Linked DNA regions of Homo sapiens: all the other regions are reported to be linked to region 1. The links are microRNA targets in miRTarBase. Many come from high-throughput screens and were not tested one by one. Region 1 holds a microRNA gene; each other region holds the end of a gene's coding sequence. Distances are between the middles of the regions.

Region 1 (4,707 bases):
TCGCCACCACAGGAGGCCTCGGCTTGCCCAGCAGCTGAGTCGGGAGAACCTTTCCCAGGTCCCGAGGCAGCGGGAGGCGAAGCCAGGAGACCCACCTGGTGCCAGGGAAGAGCTGTCACCTGGGCCTTTCCTCCAGGAGCCTCCAAGGAAGGTGGAGGTGTGACATCAGAGTGTTGGGATGTGGAGGGGTGTGACTCCCTGGGATGCAGCTCTGTGCCCTGACTCCAGTGTGCCATGCTTGGCTGATCTCTCAATGATTAACTGTGTGACCTTGGACACACCGTGTTGCCTCCTGCGCCTCTCTGCCCAGACAGCATGGCAAGTGAAAGCCTCCCTCCCTTACTGATGGTGTGATCTGGGCTGCCTCCTTGGACACGCCAAGCCTGCTGTGCCTCGAGGCCTTTGCCCTGACTGCTTCCTCTGCCTGGGATGCCTGTTGTCTAAACACCCACACCACACGCTCCCTCGCTTCCCTCCTGTCTCCTGTCAGAAGTCACCTCCTTGGGCTGTCCTTGATCATTCCATCCATCCAAAAAGTTGGCACCCACTCCCACAATTTTTTATTTCTCGTTCCCTGACTTACGTTTTTTTCTCCTGAGCATATGTTATCATCTGACAGACCACGCGTTTCTTACTTATTTTGTTTATTATTCCATCCCACTAGAAAGGCAGGGGTTTGCCTGTTTTTTCCCCATGACTGTATCCCCAGCATTTAGAACAGGGCCTGGCACCTGCTAGATGCTCAGTACATAGTTTTGAGTGAGTGAACGAATGAATGAATCATCAGTCAGTCAAACTTTGCAGCACTCACTTTGTCCATTGGAATAAAGTTTGCCTGTTAAGTACATGGTAGCCACTCAGTACATGGTAGCTAAGGTTATGTGCATGATTTTTTATATTATTGTCATTATGTGCTTTATTGTTTTTATTTTTATTTTTATTTTTTTGAGACGGAGTCTCTTTTTGTCACCCAGGCTGGCATTCAGTGGTGTGATCTTGGCTCACTGCAGCCTCCGTCTCCCGGGTTCAAGCAGTTCTCCTGTCTCAGCCTCCAGAGTAGCTGGGACTATATGCACGTGCCGCCATGCCCAGCTAATTTTTTGTATTTTAGTAGAGACAGGGTTTCACCGTGTTGCCCAGGCTGGTCACAAACTCCTGAGCTCAGGCAGTCCACCTGCCTCTGCCTCCCTAAGTGCTGGGATTACAGGCATGAGCCACCGCGCCTGGCCTATGTGCTTTATTTTTACAATCAGAGGGCTGCACTAGCAGATCTGAGAGCATGACCGGGGTGGAGTCCATGCAGGGCCGCAGGGAACACTAGTCAGAAGGAGGCAGTGAACCTCTCCTGCCCTTTCCTTCCATCTCCATCACCTTGAGCATCTTCTGGGCAGCTGAGGTGACCGCAGATGGGAAGGAAGGGCGCAGAGATGAGCATTTTCTTCTCTCCACCATCTGGTTCCAGGCAGGGCAGGAGAGGGCCCCGTGAGAGCTACTGCTCACGGCTACCACGGCTGCCTGTGGGTCAGAGCATCTCCACGCTGGAGCTGGGCCACACTGGTTCCTGCACCCGGGCAGCCTGTGGCCAGGCTGCGTTTCAAAGCCAGGACTTTCAGGAATGCACCCTTTTGACCACACAGCAAGGCCACACATACCCAATAGCAGTGGACTCTGAGCTCTTTAAAATTGTGAATGTTGCCCAGTGGCCCTCAGTCAGGATTTGTTCCATTAAACCTCATTCACTGCCCTCATTTTATGGGTTTGTTGACTGTTTGCATTTGCTCCGCAAGTTGTTTATATTCTTTGTGTGTTTTATTTTCAATTATGGCATGTGTCTTTAAAAAAAGATTGTAAGGGTTTCTTTTGAAATATAGAAAACTGTTCATCCTTTTTCAAATCATTTATGTAGCAGTTATTACTCTCCAACTTTTTTTGTTTTTCTAGTCTCTTGATTTTGTTTGAGGTATTTATTGATATATAGAAGTTATATATTTTTCTGTGGTCAGAGTTGAGTGTCTTAATTAGTGACTTCTTAATTAGTGTCTTCGTGGCTTAGAGAGTTCTTCCAAATTTTAAGATTGAGCAAACATTCCCCATAAAAAAAAAAACAAAACTATAGAACTGTAAAATTAACCTAGAACTAAGCACCTACACCCAGGATAAATTTTTGGTATAAGGTGTGAGGCAGGGAATAATGCTATTCCTTCCCTCCAAATAGTTAATGGATTGTCTGTTATCATTCACTCAATAGTGTGCCCTTTTCCCATTGCTTTAAAATATTGCTATTATCAGATACTAAATTTTTCAAATATGTGCTAAGTTTCCTTTTAGGCTTTCTGTTAGTTACCACTGATATACTGTCCTTGCTCTGCCACTGTGCTGTTTTATTCCAGCTTCATAGTGTTTTGTTTGTTTGTTTTTTGAGACGGAGTCTTGCTCTGTCTCCCAGGCTGGAGTGCAGAGGCGTGATCTCGGCTCACTCTAAGCTCTGCCTCCCGGGTTCATGCCATTCTCCTGCCTCAGCCTCCTGAGTAGCTGGGACTCCAGGCACCTGCCACCATGCCCAGCTAATTTTTTGTACTTTTAGTAGAGACGGGGTTTCACTGTGTTAGCCAGGATGGTCTCGATCTCCTGACCTAGTGATCTGCCTGCCTCAACCTCCCAAAGTGCTGGCATTACAGGTGTGAGCCACCACGTGGCCCATAATTTTTTTAAAATTGAGCCCTCTCCTTTTAAAGATGAAGGAACTGAGGCACCAGAGAGGTCAAGCAACCTGCCCAAGGTCACACAGCCAAATGCTGTCTGAGAATCTCACATGCATAAAATTCCAGTGTATTTAACCTTCTCGTGGGCTGTGTCTCATGATGCTTCCCTGTGCTTCTTTCCTGTCACTTCTGCTCATGGTATAGCACTGGAATGCTTTTTTTTTTTTTTTTTTTAAACAGCTGTTGTACGTTCTTTCTCTAAGTGGAGCTAGTCAGAAAAAGCTGCATGAAGCTACTAGCAAGAATGAGATCAGACACGTGAATTTTGTAGTACTGTGCCTGGCATAGAAAAAGCCCTTAATCTATTAGTAATAATACAATTATTATTATTTCCATTGATGTTGACTTTTTGTAAGGTACGTCCTCATTTGAAGCATCAGTCAGTTTGGTGATCAGTTGCCCTTGAGTGTTCAGACACTCGTTTACAGATGTTGGACCCTGTTACCCACCTTCCCCTCCCACCATAAATTACCGAGGTCACCCCAGACTCTGAACTGGCTGACAAGCTGTTACAGTGATAGAAAGTTTTGCACTTGAGCATTCCCACAAGCTCCTAGGACTCCAGGTCAGTTTACATGTTCCAGGTTTTTGAGAAAATTGTCCACGCTGACTTCAAGGCGAGAGCATCTTGGATCTCCTCCCAGAGAGAGTCGTGTCACCTGAGGGCCCAGGGAACCTCGGTGACAAGGGACCTCTTGTCTGCTGTGTGCTGTGGGCTGATGTGATCCCTGTTTGCAGTGTAAACTCATAAGCAGGGACCCGAAGCATCCCCCGACCCCTGGCTTTGCAGAGCAGCCATAACCAGCCAGTATGAAGATTAATTTCCCTGTAAAACCTTTGAAATCAGGTAAGTGTTAATTATTAAAATTTCACGAGGAGAGGCTTGTTTGGTGTGAAGGCTTCCAGCTTGCTGAGGGTGACCTGGAACTTGTTGTGAGGATGACCAAAGGTACTTGGGAGTGCTCCTTGCCTTGCTGTGGCAATTGGAAGTCTTCATCTTACCTTGCGCCATGCAGGGAGGGTGTGCCCTGGATGGACCCAGTGTGGCCTGTGTGCTTGCTATTCGGTACCTCTCTCACCTGTCATTAACTCGGGGGCATTATAAATTGATCGTCAGGATAAGAATATTCTCTTATAGTTCATCTTTTTAAAAAAATGGTGATAAGATACACAGAACATAATGCCCTGTCCTAACCATTTTTAAGTGTGCAGATCAATAGTGTTAAGTATATTCACATTGTAGCACAACCCGTCTCCGGAACCTTCTTTCTATAAATGCAGAATTAGGGTTGGCTACCTCAGGTGGACACCTGGTTCATGACCTTTGATGAAGTGGGTAGAACTTATTTAGAGCAGGAGGCCGAGGGACAACAGCACCAGCCTTTGTGGTAGGTGTTAATACCTCTCATTTTTCAGATGAGGAAACTGAGGCACTGCTTGTCTTTTTTTTTTCCAGTAAAATGTTGTTATAGAAACATACGTGCGTCACATACATCCGGAAGCATGCACACGTACAGCTCAGTGAATTTTTGCCAACTCAGCACGCACGTGTAACCAGCGCCCAAATCAAGAGACAACATACTGAGCAGTACCCCACCCCCTGCCCTGCACCTCCCGCCAGCCGTTGCTCTCCCCAGGGGTAACTGCTCTCCTGGCTTGTATCAGTGTCTAATGGTTTTGCCCGCTTGTGAACTCCACATCTGTGCAGTTGTTTGGCATGTATGATTTTGTCTGGCATTTTTCCCATGACATATTAGTGTGACTTTAAGAGTAAGTTGCTGGAAACTTCAGGACCAGTCATGGCAGAACTGGGCTACAGACTCAGAGCAGGGTCCCCCCTGCTCACCGTCCTGGCCGTCACAATGTTCACGTGTGAGCCTGCCTTGGCCTGGAGTGTCGGGGCATCCTGAGAAATAAAGTTGGATAGAAACGCCCCATATAGGCT
Region 2 (4,707 bases), not on the chromosome of region 1:
GTAGAATTTGATTTGGATTCTATGCCACAAAACTGCCTAGCCCCACACTGAAGCACTCCGTGGGCACTGATAAATGTTTGGCCAACGCGTAAAACTAAATGTGCCCTTGGGCTGGGCGCAGGGCCTCTTTCTGCATGTTCGTCAACTGTATTAACATCCACCTTTCCTCTGGATGGCCCTGGGAGGAGGCCCGCCATGAAGGCCTTCCTAAGCCGCCGGGCAGCACAAAGGTGATTTCACATCTTCCCAGCTGTTTAGGCCTAAGATGTGGACATCGAGCCTTCAACGTGGGTATTTTTCTCCTGGAATCTTAGTTTCTTCATTTGCAAAAAGTAGACAGGAACTTCTCCCCTGCGGGGTTGCAATGGGAATTGGAGAAAATATATTTCAAGTGCCTTGCGCGATGCCCGGCACCGAGGCACTTGGCGGCACTCAATATCTGGTATTGTTTGGCTATTATTACTACTTCTTGGGCTGATCATGCTCCAATGCTTCTCTCTTAACCCCTTGCTTTTTTTTTCTTTCGGCCCTCAGGGCGGCTGAGCCCCCCAGCCTGCACCCTCCGCAAACACAAGACGAACCGTAAGCCGCGGACGCCCTTCACCACCGCGCAGCTGCTGGCGCTGGAGCGCAAGTTCCGCCAGAAGCAGTACCTGTCCATCGCCGAGCGCGCGGAGTTCTCCAGCTCGCTCAGCCTCACTGAGACGCAGGTGAAGATATGGTTCCAGAACCGCCGCGCCAAGGCAAAGAGACTACAAGAGGCAGAGCTGGAGAAGCTGAAGATGGCCGCCAAGCCCATGCTGCCACCGGCTGCCTTCGGCCTCTCCTTCCCTCTCGGCGGCCCCGCAGCTGTAGCGGCCGCGGCGGGTGCCTCGCTCTACGGTGCCTCTGGCCCCTTCCAGCGCGCCGCGCTGCCTGTGGCGCCCGTGGGACTCTACACGGCCCATGTGGGCTACAGCATGTACCACCTGACATAGAGGGTCCCAGGTCGCCCACCTGTGGGCCAGCCGATTCCTCCAGCCCTGGTGCTGTACCCCCGACGTGCTCCCCTGCTCGGCACCGCCAGCCGCCTTCCCTTTAACCCTCACACTGCTCCAGTTTCACCTCTTTGCTCCCTGAGTTCACTCTCCGAAGTCTGATCCCTGCCAAAAAGTGGCTGGAAGAGTCCCTTAGTACTCTTCTAGCATTTAGATCTACACTCTCGAGTTAAAGATGGGGAAACTGAGGGCAGAGAGGTTAACAGATTTATCTAAGGTCCCCAGCAGAATTGACAGTTGAACAGAGCTAGAGGCCATGTCTCCTGCATAGCTTTTCCCTGTCCTGACACCAGGCAAGAAAAGCGCAGAGAAATCGGTGTCTGACGATTTTGGAAATGAGAACAATCTCAAAAAAAAAAAAAAAAAAAAAAAAAAAAAAAAAAAAGAAAAGAGAAAAAAAAGACTAGCCAGCCAGGAAGATGAATCCTAGCTTCTTCCATTGGAAAATTTAAGACAAGTTCAACAACAAAACATTTGCTCTGGGGGGCAGGGAAAACACAGATGTGTTGCAAAGGTAGGTTGAAGGGACCTCTCTCTTACCAGTACCAGAAACACAATTGTAAAATTAAAAAAAAAAAAAAACTCTTTCTATTTAACAGTACATTTGTGTGGCTCTCAAACATCCCTTTGGAAGGGATTGTGTGTACTATGTAATATACTGTATATTTGAAATTTTATTATCATTTATATTATAGCTATATTTGTTAAATAAATTAATTTTAAGCTACAAAAATTATCTCTTTACTGATTGAGTCTTTTATTTTAATTTTGCTTCTTGCTATCTCTTTATGTGTACAGTTGCTTTTCAGTTTGACGGTACTTTTACGACAGCAACTTTGAAAGGTGATAACAGGGTATGCAGGGATAGAGGGGGGTGTCTTTTTGAACACCCACGACAGATCTGCATTAGGAAAGTCAAGTGGAGAGTTGAAGTAATTACCTAGGATAATTAGGCTCAATTTTCCAATTCACTTTAAGCTGAAATCGACACTTACTCGGGCAACCTATAACCAACTCTTGCTTTCTTTCTCTCCTTTTAACCTGTCTATGAAAACAAAGCAAATCGCCCAAATGGTTTGATGAGTGTGGACAGCTAATCCAGACAATTCCCACCTCCGCAAATCTGTTTTTCCCACGGGAGGCCAGGTGGGGGATGGAAGCGATTGCGTTGCCTCTCTAAATTACCCCCACTGTAGACGCGGTTTGTGGAACTAATTTTGAGCTGCCAGAATATAAGAACCTTCTCACCCCCTATTCTGGCCGCTAAAAACACAACACAACCTAACAAAGTTTACAGAAAACCCAGGGCCACCTTCCACTCTCGCCTGGAAAGTCCTCTGCAGGAGCCCTGTTTCCAAACCCTCACAAACTCGGTTTTTCTTAAGATCAGTCTTCCAGGAGAATATATTTGCACACGCGCCAAGTTTAGCTTTCCGGGGAATTCTGCAAGGACGCCGAATGCAGAAAATTACCCCCTGATTAAATAAAGCCTATTAAGCTCCAGGCACCGCTCTGTTGTCTTTCGTGTTCGGGCGGCGGCAGACCTGCGCATCCCTCTCCTCCTTCAGCCTCTGTCCCGCGGTGACCCGCTCCTCCAAATTCCACGCAGGATAGCGCCGGACAGTCTGCAGTAAGCCGTTAAGCCGGAGGTCAGTAGACTAAAGATGGTTCGAAACCTGGGTACCTGGCGTTGGACTTGAACAGGGGTGAACAGCTTCACAGATAGAGACGTTAAAAACAGAGCCCCAAGGGCAGCGCGCGGTTTCTAGCCCCAGGACCCTTAGGTCGGTCTAGGAATTCCCAGCGAGCCCAGGGTTGCGGGAACGCGCCCTGGGCAGGTTCTGCACGGGCGCCGGGCACATTCCGGGGCGTCCTGGGCTTCGGATCCTCCAGCCTCTGCAGCTCGGGCAAAGGTTCTGTCTTCCCTGGCTGGAGCTGCAGTATGAACTTGTTACAACCCCGCTCCTTAAGAAGAAAAGCTTGCTGTGGAGGGCAGTTTCGCTCCTGGGGAGCCCCGGAGCTGTTGCCCTCGGCCTGGGAACTTCTAGAAAAGCACCAGAGCCCGGGTCTGGGCCTTTTCGCCCCCCAAAGGGGAGCTATGCATAACAAGGTCTCAGACTCCCACACCACGCAGCTCTCTAAAGGTGCTTTAGGGCTGAAGTGCCTCGCCGCGTTTTTTTTCTTTTTTCTTTCCTCTATAAATTAAGTAACCCTCGAATGACGGCGCGCAGGACGCCCGGCTCTGGCAAATCTGGGTTCTTTTCTGGAACACGCTAGAGACGTCCTCGTCGTGGGGTTAGTATTGAACTTGGAGTCAGAGAGCCAATGTGGTTCAGTGTGGATCAAGCCCGCCACTTACTATAAAAGATCATATCATCTCTCTGCACCGCCTTTTTCTCGTCTGTGAAATGGGCCTTGGACTCTTCCCCCTACACCCCAGGATTTGGGGGAAGTGTCGACAAGCCCCCGCGCGGGAGGGCACCCAGGGAATACCGGGTGCATCTGACTTTTCTTGGCTTACTGCGCGCCCGCAGCACTGAAGTTTTTTTCCGCGCGTTCGTGATAGGGAAATGGCAGGGCAGGATCGGGTGTCTCCCCCGGCCCCGGCTCCAGGACCTCCTGGCTCCTTGGAGTTTGGCAATTTAGGGTAGAGGCAAATTTAGAGCAACATAATTGCGGTAATGAGCAACGGCTCACCCTCTGCAGACGCGTCGCGGCTCCAGCGAGGCGGTAGCTGCAGGCGAGGCGGGCGCGCCTCCCCGCCCCCTCCCTGCGCCGCAGCCCGGGTGCGAGGGCCCGGCCTCCCTGGGACCCCGGCCCGCGCGCGCCTCCGCCTCTGGCTGCTGGCCTTGGCTAGGGGCTTCCTTCCACTTCTGGGCCTCCGAATCTCCCCATTTTTGTTTCTGTCCGTCTAGCCCATTCTTTGCCCCCCTTTTGTTTCCGCATTCCCTCTCTGAACAGGGTGTGCACACAGAAGGTGCTCGATAATTGTTTGCTAGATCGGAGCGGCACGCTGGTGTGGGGAGAACACCCAGAGCCACAGTCAGCCGGGTCCGGCCGGAAATCGCGGCTGCGCTTCCGGCACTGCTTCTCGTCCATCCCAGTCCTTCGAACTGTGTTCCCTGGTTTATCAACCGAGGGCGGAGTGGGCAGGGGTTTCCTGGGTCTGTTCCTTTACGGACCAATTTCCTTCTCTGGCAAGAAACATGGGATCTACCAGGCGGAGAGGTCGGCCACCTTCCGCGCTGGGAGGTAGTGATGGAGCAGTCTGCACTCACAGCCTACTGTGTGCCGGGAGTTCCCGCTCACGCTGACTCCCAACACACCTAGGAGATTTTTATAGCGCAAAGGACTGCAGCTCAGAGAGGTGACATGGTTTTCCCAAGGTTACACAGTTAATGAAGGACATAGCAGGAATTCCAACACGGATTCCACTCGAGGATCCGGTTTTTCCCGCATTGCCCATCTCCATCTGGTTGAGGGTCACCTGGTGCCTGAGCAGCTCTCCTGCGAAGTGCGCGTCGCGCTGGAAAACGGAGCGCAGAATCCGGGAACTAGTTCTGAATTTAACTCCTTGCGCTCTAACCACGAACAGGCACTGTCCCTTGAGGAATGATAGGGGCGTCTCACCGGCCCTGCACGCTGTGAAAGCGTTTTCGTTTTGTTGGGG
Region 3 (4,690 bases), 12 Mb from region 1:
GGGCTCATGCTCTTAACCACCAGGCAGGACAGTGTTTCTCATTCTCAAGCTGTCAGTCTCTGAGTTCTGACACTGCCTAACCATTTTTCAGTCCTAATCTTTTTTTTTTTTTTTTTTTTTTGCTTCCTTGAGATGGTATCACTCTGTCTTCCAGGCTGGAGTGCAGTGGCACAAACATAGCTCACTGCAGCCTCACCCCCTTGGGCTCAAACGATCCTCCCACCTCAGCCTCCCAAGTAGCTGGACCCACAGGAGTGCACCACCACACCTGGCTGATTTTTGTATTGTTTGTAGAGATGAGGTTTTGCCATGTTGCCTAGGCTGGTCTCAAACTCCTGGGCTCAAGTGATCCCCATGCTTTGGCCTCCTGAAGTGCTAGGATTACAGGTGTGAGCCACCGTGCCTAGCCTTAGTCATAATCTTAAAAAACAAAAAACAAAACAGCATTAACACCTTCCAGCAATTATTTGCATTGACTCAAAGTGTCACAAGCTAAGTAGGCAGAAAACAGACTCTATACATGGGGTTCAGTTCTAGCAAAGGCCAAATGACAGCACAGCACTCTGGGAGCACAGTGGCTCTATGGCAGTCTTGCTCAAGTGACAGAAGAGTCTGGGAACTTCTATCAGCACACGTGGCACAGGCATCCCCCACCCGAGTCCCACCACCGTCGCAGTCCTAGCACTGGTCATGCCATAAGCAGTGACTTGGTTTCGGCGAAACAATCGTCAGTTCATAGTAAGTTTTATAGTTCTACAGAAGCTGTAAGCATAGTTTTATCTTTGCACACATTTCAATAACTATAATAAAAACAACACTGAATTATGTGAAAAAATATTAATGAACATAGGCATTCTCAAGTTTAAGAAACACTGATGCCGGGTGTGGTGGCTCACGCCTGTAATCCCAGCACTTTGGGAGGCTGAGGTGGGCGGATCACGAGGTCAGGAGATCGAGACCATCCTGGCTAACACGGTGAAACCCCATCTCTACGAAAAATACAAAAAATTAGCCAGGTGTGGTGGCGGGTGCCTGTAGTCCCAGCTACTCAGGAGGCTGAGGCAGGAGAATGGTGTGAACCCAGAGGCAGAGCTTGCAGTGAGCTGAGATAGCACCACTGCACTCCAGCCTGGGTGACAGAGTGAGACTCCATTTCATAAATAAATAAATAAATAAATAAATAAATAAATAAATAAATAAAAAGAAACACTGATTAGGATATTTTGTTTCCCTAAATGCATCAGTTTCACTCCTCTACCTGGAGAGCACCATTGACTCACATGAGAGTTAAGGGGAGAAAAGCTTCTGGATTCTAATCCGGTTCAGAGGGAGACCAAACCAGCTGCAGGCAGAAGGCGGCTAGCCTGAAAGGAGCTCAAGTTCTCAACTTCTCCCTGTGGTTTCAGTTGGGGTTGGTTGATAGAAGAACAATAGGTACTAAACCCCAAAATGCAGTTAATAGGTAATAAAGCTGTATGAAGTTTCCAACTTGTAACTAATGGATGAATTTTTTTTTTTTTTGAGATGGAGTCTCACTCTATCACCCAGGCTGGAGTGCAGTGGTGCGATCTCGGTTTATTGCAACCGCCACCTCCCCGGTTCAAGCGATTCTCCTGCCTCAGCCTTCCGAGTAGCTGGGACTACAGGCGCCTGCCACCATGCCTGGCTAATTTTGTATTTTTCAAAATTTTTAATTTTAAACTTTTTTTTTTTTTTTTTGAGAAGGAGTTTTGCTCTTTTTGCCCAGGCTGGAGTGCAATGGCACCATCTCCGCTCATCACAACCTCCGCCTCCCAAGTTCAAGCAATTCTCCTGCCTCAGCCTCCCGAGAGGTCGGGATTACAGGCGCCTGCCACCATGGCTGGCTAAGTTTTTGTATTTTTAGTAGAGATGGGGTTTCACCATGTTGGCCAGGCTGGTCTTGAACTCCTGACCTCAGGTGATCCTACCCTTCTTGGCCTCGCAAAGTGCTGGGATTACAGGGGTGAGCCATGGCTCCCAGCCAGTTTTGTTTTGTTTTGAGATAGAGTCTCGCTTTGTTGCCCAGGCTGGAGTGCAGTGGCATGATCTTGGCTCGTTGCAACCTCCATCTCCCGAGTTCAAGCGATTCTTGTGCCTCAGCCTCCTGAATAGCTGGGATTACAGGCACCCGCCACCACGCCCAGCTAATTTTTGTATTTTTAGTACATAGGGTTTTACTATGTTGGCCGCGCTGGTCTCGAACTCCTGACCTCAAGTGATCCTCCTGCCTCGGCCTCCCAGAGTGCTGGGATTACAGGCATTAGCCACCATGCCTGGCCTAATGGATGAATTTTAAAACTTTAGCATTTCTTTAAGCCTTGCCTTTCACTCACTCAGAAGTGAGAAAGGGGGAATTCTTTTGTCCCCAGAAATGATATATGAGGAAACTGAAAGGTTAAGAGGAAACTTCCATATCATCTGTTTGACATAGCTTCCAAGGATTAAAACATTCAATAAAGTCTGACATCAGCTTCTTGATCAAAATAGTTCAGCAAAGTTTAACATTTTGCTACCTCCCTCTGTGGATACATGCTGTGCTGCAATTAAACAGCTACTTACAGTTGAGAGAAGCAAGACTTTAATGAAGAATGCTACAAGTATGGACAATAATTAGTTCTCACCTTTTAAAAAAAGATTACAGAAAACACTTTACTGAAATTTTTTGCTAAAAAGACAGTCTTTAAGGGTGTCCGGGAGAGACAGCAAGCACAACACAGTACAAAAGGAGAAGGGAATGTTGAATTCCAGTGCAAGACACGAACACAGCACAATTAGGGAATCAGGAGGAAGCAACCATTTCACAAAGAATGAAATTAGGCATTTATATTCAATCGGATTTTTTTTAAGCTTTAAAAGTCCAGCATAAGGAAGGGAATTGGGAAAAGAGGCAGGGGACAGGGGGCAGGGGATCAGGGAACTAATCTTATCTACAATCACCATTTTACCAAAAAACACACTGGTTCAACCACATGAGAAGTGGAGGATTAACCTGCCTACATAGCCCAGCAGATGTTGACAGCAAATGCCAAGGCAGACAGGTCTAGGGTTGATGTCACGACTGGCTAAAGAGTTTTTAAAGGGAATCTTATTCCACAAGGACTGGTCTGTCATCAACCTGGGTTCATAACAGACTAAGTTCCTTTGCATTTGCATCAGAAGGCCAGAACTTGACGTGGAACAAATTTACTCCAAATAATACTCACATTGCTGGTTTTAACAGGTCATGGAGTCACAAGTGGCTCCTAATAGACTTCACCATTTCCTAGGAGAAGGTTCTACAGATTACCAGGGATTTAAATTTAAGCAAACCACTAAAGAAGGGAAACGCTAATGATATTCTGGCACTGCACAAGCTGTGTGCCTGTCATCTCTGCCAAGGACATGGGTGGACTTGGCTCTGCTTCTTAGCTCCATGATCTCCAACAGTGATGAAGTGGAAATGGGACCTCCCCCACGTCGAAGGAGGTTGCCCAAAATTCTCATCCCAGCCCAGCTTCTGAAAGAAACAGCAGATGCCAGGCGCGGTGGCTCATGCCTGTAATCCCAGCACTTTGGGAGGCCGAGTTGGGTGGATCACGAGGTCAGGAGATCGAGACCATCCTGGCTAACACGGTGAAACCCCGTCTCTACTAAAAATACAAAACATTAGCCGGGCGTGATGGCGGGCGCCTGTAGTCCCAGCTACTCGGGAGGCTGAGGCAGGAGAATGGCGTGAGCCCGGGAGACGGAGGTCGCAGTGAGCCGAGATCACGCCACTGCACTCCAGCCTGGGTGACAGAGCGAGACTCTGTCTCAAAAAAAAAAAAAAAAGAAAAAGAAAGAAAGAGCAGACTATCAGGGGCTATTATTAGGAACCATGCTCCTGTGAATTCTGTGGAAATGAAAGCCTGTTTCAGTTCATGCCAAGTCTTTTCATGGTCCGCCAGCGATCCTTAATCATCACAGCTGTTCGGTTAACAAATGGGTAATTTTTAGAAATGGCAGCCCAGTTTCCTTCCCCATATTTCTGCACTCCAGCCTTGACCCACTCGCTTTCTTCTACAGTCCACTTCTGCAAAAGAAAACCAAAAGATTTATTACCACCTTTCCTCTCCACTTACTTACATTTTCTCCAATGTAGTGATAAGGTAAACTCAAGAATCCCAGGAGAATCATCTGAACCTGAAATCACAGCTTATGTTTTTAAACATGGAATGGACAAGATATGAGCACTGTGGATCTGGACACAGGAATTCTTGATGTCCTGCCATTTGATCCTCAAGTAACAATCACTTCTGCATTCCAAACTGCAAACATATCTACATCATTCATGTTCCGGAAAATGTGTCATCTGTTTTCCTAGTCTTTTCTTCCAGAAGATAATTATTACTTTAACTTAGTTTGGATTATCTGAAAATCTCAAAAAAAGGTTTTTACTGGGTACATAACCAGTCTATACCTGTGAGACAGGGCGCGTATTTTACCTCTGCTCTACCCACATAACCAGTAACAGAAAAGAGAATTTTAAATTACCTGCTTTTTTGTTATATTGGTTGTACTGTCTTCATCTGGTGCTGCTGGAAAACATTAAAAGTAGACTCATTTCAGAGTTCACCTTTCTCTGCACAAACCACAAGAAAAAGACATGGAATGTCCCCAAAGGGAAAACTTCTTCAAATTTCACAAGCAT
Region 4 (4,586 bases), not on the chromosome of region 1:
ATGATCAATGCCTCATTCCTGTTGGGAATCTATGGCTTCTCTTCCTTTTGGTATCATTGTTTCAGACCCAGCTTGAAGCTGACTGGGCCCAAAGAAGCTCCATATTATGCAAGCACTCCAGGACCCCTCTACAAGTTGCTACAGGAAGTGGAGCAGTCAGAGAAAGAGGACCAGGCTCTCCTCCTTCCAAAGAGCTCCCCCTGAGACAGGGCCTACAGTGGCTGGCACATCGTCCACCTCATCTTCCTCCTGTTGGCTCCTCAGCCACGAGCATGGTACCCTCCTTGGTAAAGGTAATGGCCTTGAAGGCTAGCAGTTGGTCCCGTCTGCTGGTTCATTTTCTTTTCTTCTCTTTTCTTTTTTTTTTTTTTTGAGACAGAGTCTCGCTCTGTTGCCCAGCCTGGAGTGCAATGGCACAATCTCAGCTCAGTGCAACCTCCGCCTCCCGAGTTCAAGCGATTCTCCTGCCTCAGCCTCCCGAGTAGCTGCAATTACAGGAGCCTGCCACCATGCCCGTGCTGGTGCATTTTCTGTCCCTGAGCCTCTAATTACTGAGAAGATAAGGGGAGAGGGATTGAGAAAGAGACGCTGATGGGATTTGCGGGAGGGAGGGAAAAGGACGAGGAGAACACTTCTTCTTAGTGTGCAAGAAAAGCCACTGGGGGAAGAGAATGCAACAAAAGGAAGAGCTGTGAAGGGAGGAGAACAGAGTCTAGCAGTTATGCTGTCATTAGCGTCATCAGGCACAAGGGATTGCCTTTTACCTGAGGGAATAAAGACTTCTCACAACTCAAAACTGGACCCATTCAAATCTCATCTTGATAAAGAAAAGTGGGTACTTTACGTGCTCACCAAAGTGGTGCCACCATGTGGAAATAGCATGATAGAATTTATAATTAATTCATACAGGCTGAAATTATGCTCGCTTTGCCTCCTTCTCTCTCCGCAGCTTTCAAGAATTGGCTTCATTTCAAACTTTACATATAAAGTGAGACTTTTTAAATACTTAATAACATTTCAAATTTCCATAATTTAAATTTGTATAGAATTCAACTGCTATAGCATTTTTATAGCATTCAAATGCTTGGTACTTCCCTGACTTCTCATTTTATTACTCTTATTCTAGCCCAAACTTTCCTTTTCACCATGACCACCCTTGCACATGCAATTTAGCAGATACCATTCTTGGGTCTTTGCAAATTTCTTTTCCTTGCAAATCACAGCCAGTCATCCTACAGTCACATATTTACCATGTTATTCGATTCCCAGAATAAACCTACATCCACCCCCACACCGCACCAAGTATCCCCAAGGTGGCCTTCTCCAGAACTCTTACTGATTCCCTTGTTTTGGAACTCTTGGGCACTTACATTAAATCTGCTTTGTTAGTTTGCTCATACAGGTGACCCACTTTCTTTTATACTGCTGCTGAAATCATTTTCTTTCAGAAGGTTCTTCCTCACCCACTAAAGTACAGGCTCCTAAAGGGAAAAGACTTTGCCTTATCCAAGTTACCAAATTTCCTATGTATACTCCAGCTATGGATCATGGTTATGTTTAATAAAGCCTTCTTTGCTTCCAGAGTCTTCCCTAATCCTGTTTCTTCTAAATGTATTGCTGGACAGGTTGGAGGTTTTGTGAATCTCTCTGGGTGACAACAACAGTCCTGAACACTGAGTCACTGCCTTAGTAATGCACCCACTCTCTTCCTTGTTTTGGGGTATAATAAAATCCAGTAACTTGTTTCTGAAGTTGACTCTGTTATTGTTTTTAATCCTCACAAATGTTTCTATAAGGAGTCTCTAGAAAACTGAGACTCCAGCAGGTTGACTTGCCCAAGTCTCACAGTTGGTATGAGGCAACACAGGAATTTAAGTGCAGGTGTGTCTGACGCAAGTGTGACTGTGTCCTCTGGGCCACAGTGACTTTGCTAATGGCAATGGAGAAACAAGTTATCTCAAAATGAAAAAAATGAAATTGTGAAAGAAAGAAGAAAGACGGCTGGGCACTGTGGCTCACGCCTATAATCCCAGCACTTTGCGAGGCCAAGGCGGGCGGATCCCTTGAGGTCAGGAGTTCGAGACCAGCTTGGTCAACATGGTGAAACCCTGTCTCTACTAAATATACAAAAATTAGCTAGGTGTGGTGGCCCACACCTATAATCCCAGATACTTGGGAGGCTAAGGCAGGAGAATCACTTGAACCTGGGAGGCGGAGGTTGCAGTGAGCTGAGATTGCACTACTGCACCCTAGCCTGGGTGACAGAGTGAGACTATGTCTTAAAAAAAAAAGAAAAAAGAAAAGAAGGAAGGAAAGAAAGAAAGAAAGAAAGAAAGAAAGAAAGAAAGAAAGAAAGAAAGAAAGAAAGAAAAGAAAACAAGCCAGAAAGCCCAGGTAAAGCAAACAGCACAGTGTAAACACCCTAGACCTCCCTTAGGAGTGGGTTTATGCAACACTTTCTGTCCCCTACCCTGACCCCCATCTCCCCCGGGGGGTGAGAATCTGGCAGACTCTCAACTTCTGGCTGGGTCTTACATTTCTGGGCTCAGATCCAAAGCAAGAGCTGGGGATAAGACTTGTTTTTGACCAAGGCTTCTAAAGTTTGCCATTTCCCCTTTACTCTTGGTTCCTAGCCTTTTTTCAATTACTTTTCTTTGGGAGCCTTCCTTTTCTCTTTACCTCTCTTACACATTAATGGGAGGTGATGAAAAAGCACAAACACTTAGCTGCCTGTTTCCTGTAATGAGGCTTAATTCTATAACAATAAGCCTCTGGTAATCAAGTGATACCCCCCAACATAATAGCTTTCAAATATTCAGTGTAGGCAATAAGCCTGCATGTTATTAACTTACTAGATTTAAGATGTAACAGAAAGGTCCTCCCACTAAAGGCTACTCAAGAAAAAACTCAAAGCACTCAAGCTTTGGGGGAGTTTGTCATTCTCACAAAATTCCACAAGAGGGCACTAGGTTCACACCACCCCGGCCAAGCTTCTGATTCTCCAACCCCAGTAAACAAGTCTCCGGAGAACGGGTTTAAAAGAAGTGGAAGAGGAGAACGGACAGGAAAAATCCAGAAGCAGACTAAGAATTGCCCAAGCATCCAGAAAACATACCCTAGGGCTGTTTGTTTCCTGTTAAAATTTGGCGAGTCAATGTGAAATAAACAGGGATCCAAATTAACTAATGAGGTGGGAGGGGAGGGAGGAAGGGCTGTGGATCCCATTGAGGATTTCTTTGGGAATGGTACCAACTAAAGCACATACTCTGATCTAAATAATTTTTTGATCAGAATGCTAAATTCTCTAAATTTTTTAATTAGCTTCAATAATGTTCCAATCAATCTACAGAACAACGATCTGTACAGTGTAAATTGAGAATAAAGGACAAAATGTATCTAAAAAAACCCGATTCACAAAACAATGAAACTGGAGGCAGATTATCAGATGTGAAAAATGATCTCCAAAGAGTCCTTCAAAGAGAATCTTTCCTATGGTGTTGTTTTTTTCTGCTAATCTAGTTATTCACAAAGAAAATATATATTGAGTGTCTGCTATACAGAAGTCACTGGGTAAGCATACCCAGGATTGAGAGGTAAATGGTTGCTCCCTGTCCTCTGCACCTCCCTCAGTGAGGACTGTAGGAATTTCAGTATTTTAGAGATGGTGGCCCCGGAACAGATCACCCACAGACCAAAGCGACTAAAGGAAAGGGAACAGAAAAAGAACAGCACCTTGAAAGCTCATTAAGCTCTAAAATACTAACCAAACATGACTTCATCAAGTTACTATGAGTTATCTAAGCCTCAGTTCCTCATCTTTAAGATAGAATGATGTGAAGATCTAATTCTAGAATTGTATGGCTTTAATTTTCTCAATAGGACATTTTCCCCAGGTTGTTAACTAAGATGAACTTGATTCTTCCCAACTTTCCACGTAGTTTCCTGCTAGAGACATGATTCAGGGTAGAGCTCAAACAGACCCAAACCTTCCATCATAACACGCAGTTGGGGAAATGAAGTGTTCCTTGTATTTGACTGATTTCAGCACGCATCCTACAAAACTCAAATCAGGCTACAGATATGGCTGAGACGTGAATTTCCAATTTCCTGTCTTGAACTGAAGAATATCAAACAATCAAAAACTGTAAAGAACAATTCCTCCATTCTTAGTGCTAGTTATTGAACTGAAGTATAATGTAAATGTAGTCTTTCCTTCTCTAATTGTATAAAGTGAAATTTGAAAGCTTGGCCAACTACAGCTTTTCCCTAAATTATGGTTTAAGAATAATGCTATCAACTTCCAGAGCTATTTCTTTTCTTCTTCATTTTTATTATTATTATTTTGATTTGGTTTAAGATTCTACTATGGTCCATTCTTTTGGAAAGAACTGATGTTGGTTTATTACATAATAATAATTTTTAAAAGAATATTTTACAATTCTGGGTTGGGTTTCCAGGGTGTTCCCCAACCCTGAGTCTCAATTGTATCTCTTTAACATGATTTAAAGGTCTCACTGAATGCCTATTGAAATCATTCATACACAGGGAAAACTCCATTTCCTAAACAGAAAAGGTTTGGTCAATGT

The links. Region 1 holds the annotated microRNA hsa-miR-7854-3p (UGAGGUGACCGCAGAUGGGAA, at 1,393-1,413, shown strand). A microRNA usually pairs through its seed, bases 2 to 8, with sites in the 3' UTR of a target mRNA and lowers its output. Matches are read on the target gene's strand: a 7mer-m8 pairs with bases 2 to 8, a 7mer-A1 pairs with bases 2 to 7 and ends in A, and an 8mer does both.
Region 2: miRTarBase lists MSX1 as a target of hsa-miR-7854-3p. Seed matches in the 3' UTR shown: 7mer-m8 at 1,101-1,107.
Region 3: miRTarBase lists TERF2 as a target of hsa-miR-7854-3p. The part of its 3' UTR that is shown has no 7-base or 8-base seed match.
Region 4: miRTarBase lists TEDDM1 as a target of hsa-miR-7854-3p. Seed matches in the 3' UTR shown: 7mer-A1 at 235-241.

Annotation. Positions count from the first base shown.
Region 1 is chr16:81,532,550-81,537,256 of GRCh38, forward strand. MIR7854 (microRNA 7854) reads left to right here and starts at 1,353; the gene lies at 1,353-1,417. The region is part of intron 1 of CMIP (c-Maf inducing protein); the gene reads left to right. RefSeq lists enhancers at 1-232, 233-732.
Region 2 is chr4:4,862,167-4,866,873 of GRCh38, forward strand. It overlaps MSX1 (msh homeobox 1), which reads left to right. Exons shown (of 2, transcript NM_002448.3): 2 at 535-1,770. The coding sequence ends at 977. Among named protein-coding and RNA genes, the nearest start is that of MSX1, 4.9 kb to the left of the region's middle. RefSeq lists enhancers at 144-815, 2,333-3,250.
Region 3 is chr16:69,352,985-69,357,674 of GRCh38, forward strand. It overlaps TERF2 (telomeric repeat binding factor 2), which reads right to left. Exons shown (of 10, transcript NM_005652.5): 9 at 4,534-4,577; 10 at 2,583-4,072. The coding sequence ends at 3,914. Among named protein-coding and RNA genes, the nearest start is that of TMED6, 3.5 kb to the left of the region's middle.
Region 4 is chr1:182,395,282-182,399,867 of GRCh38, reverse strand. TEDDM1 (transmembrane epididymal protein 1) reads left to right here. Exons shown (of 1, transcript NM_172000.4): 1 at 1-1,751. The coding sequence ends at 204. Among named protein-coding and RNA genes, the nearest start is that of TEDDM1, 3.1 kb to the left of the region's middle.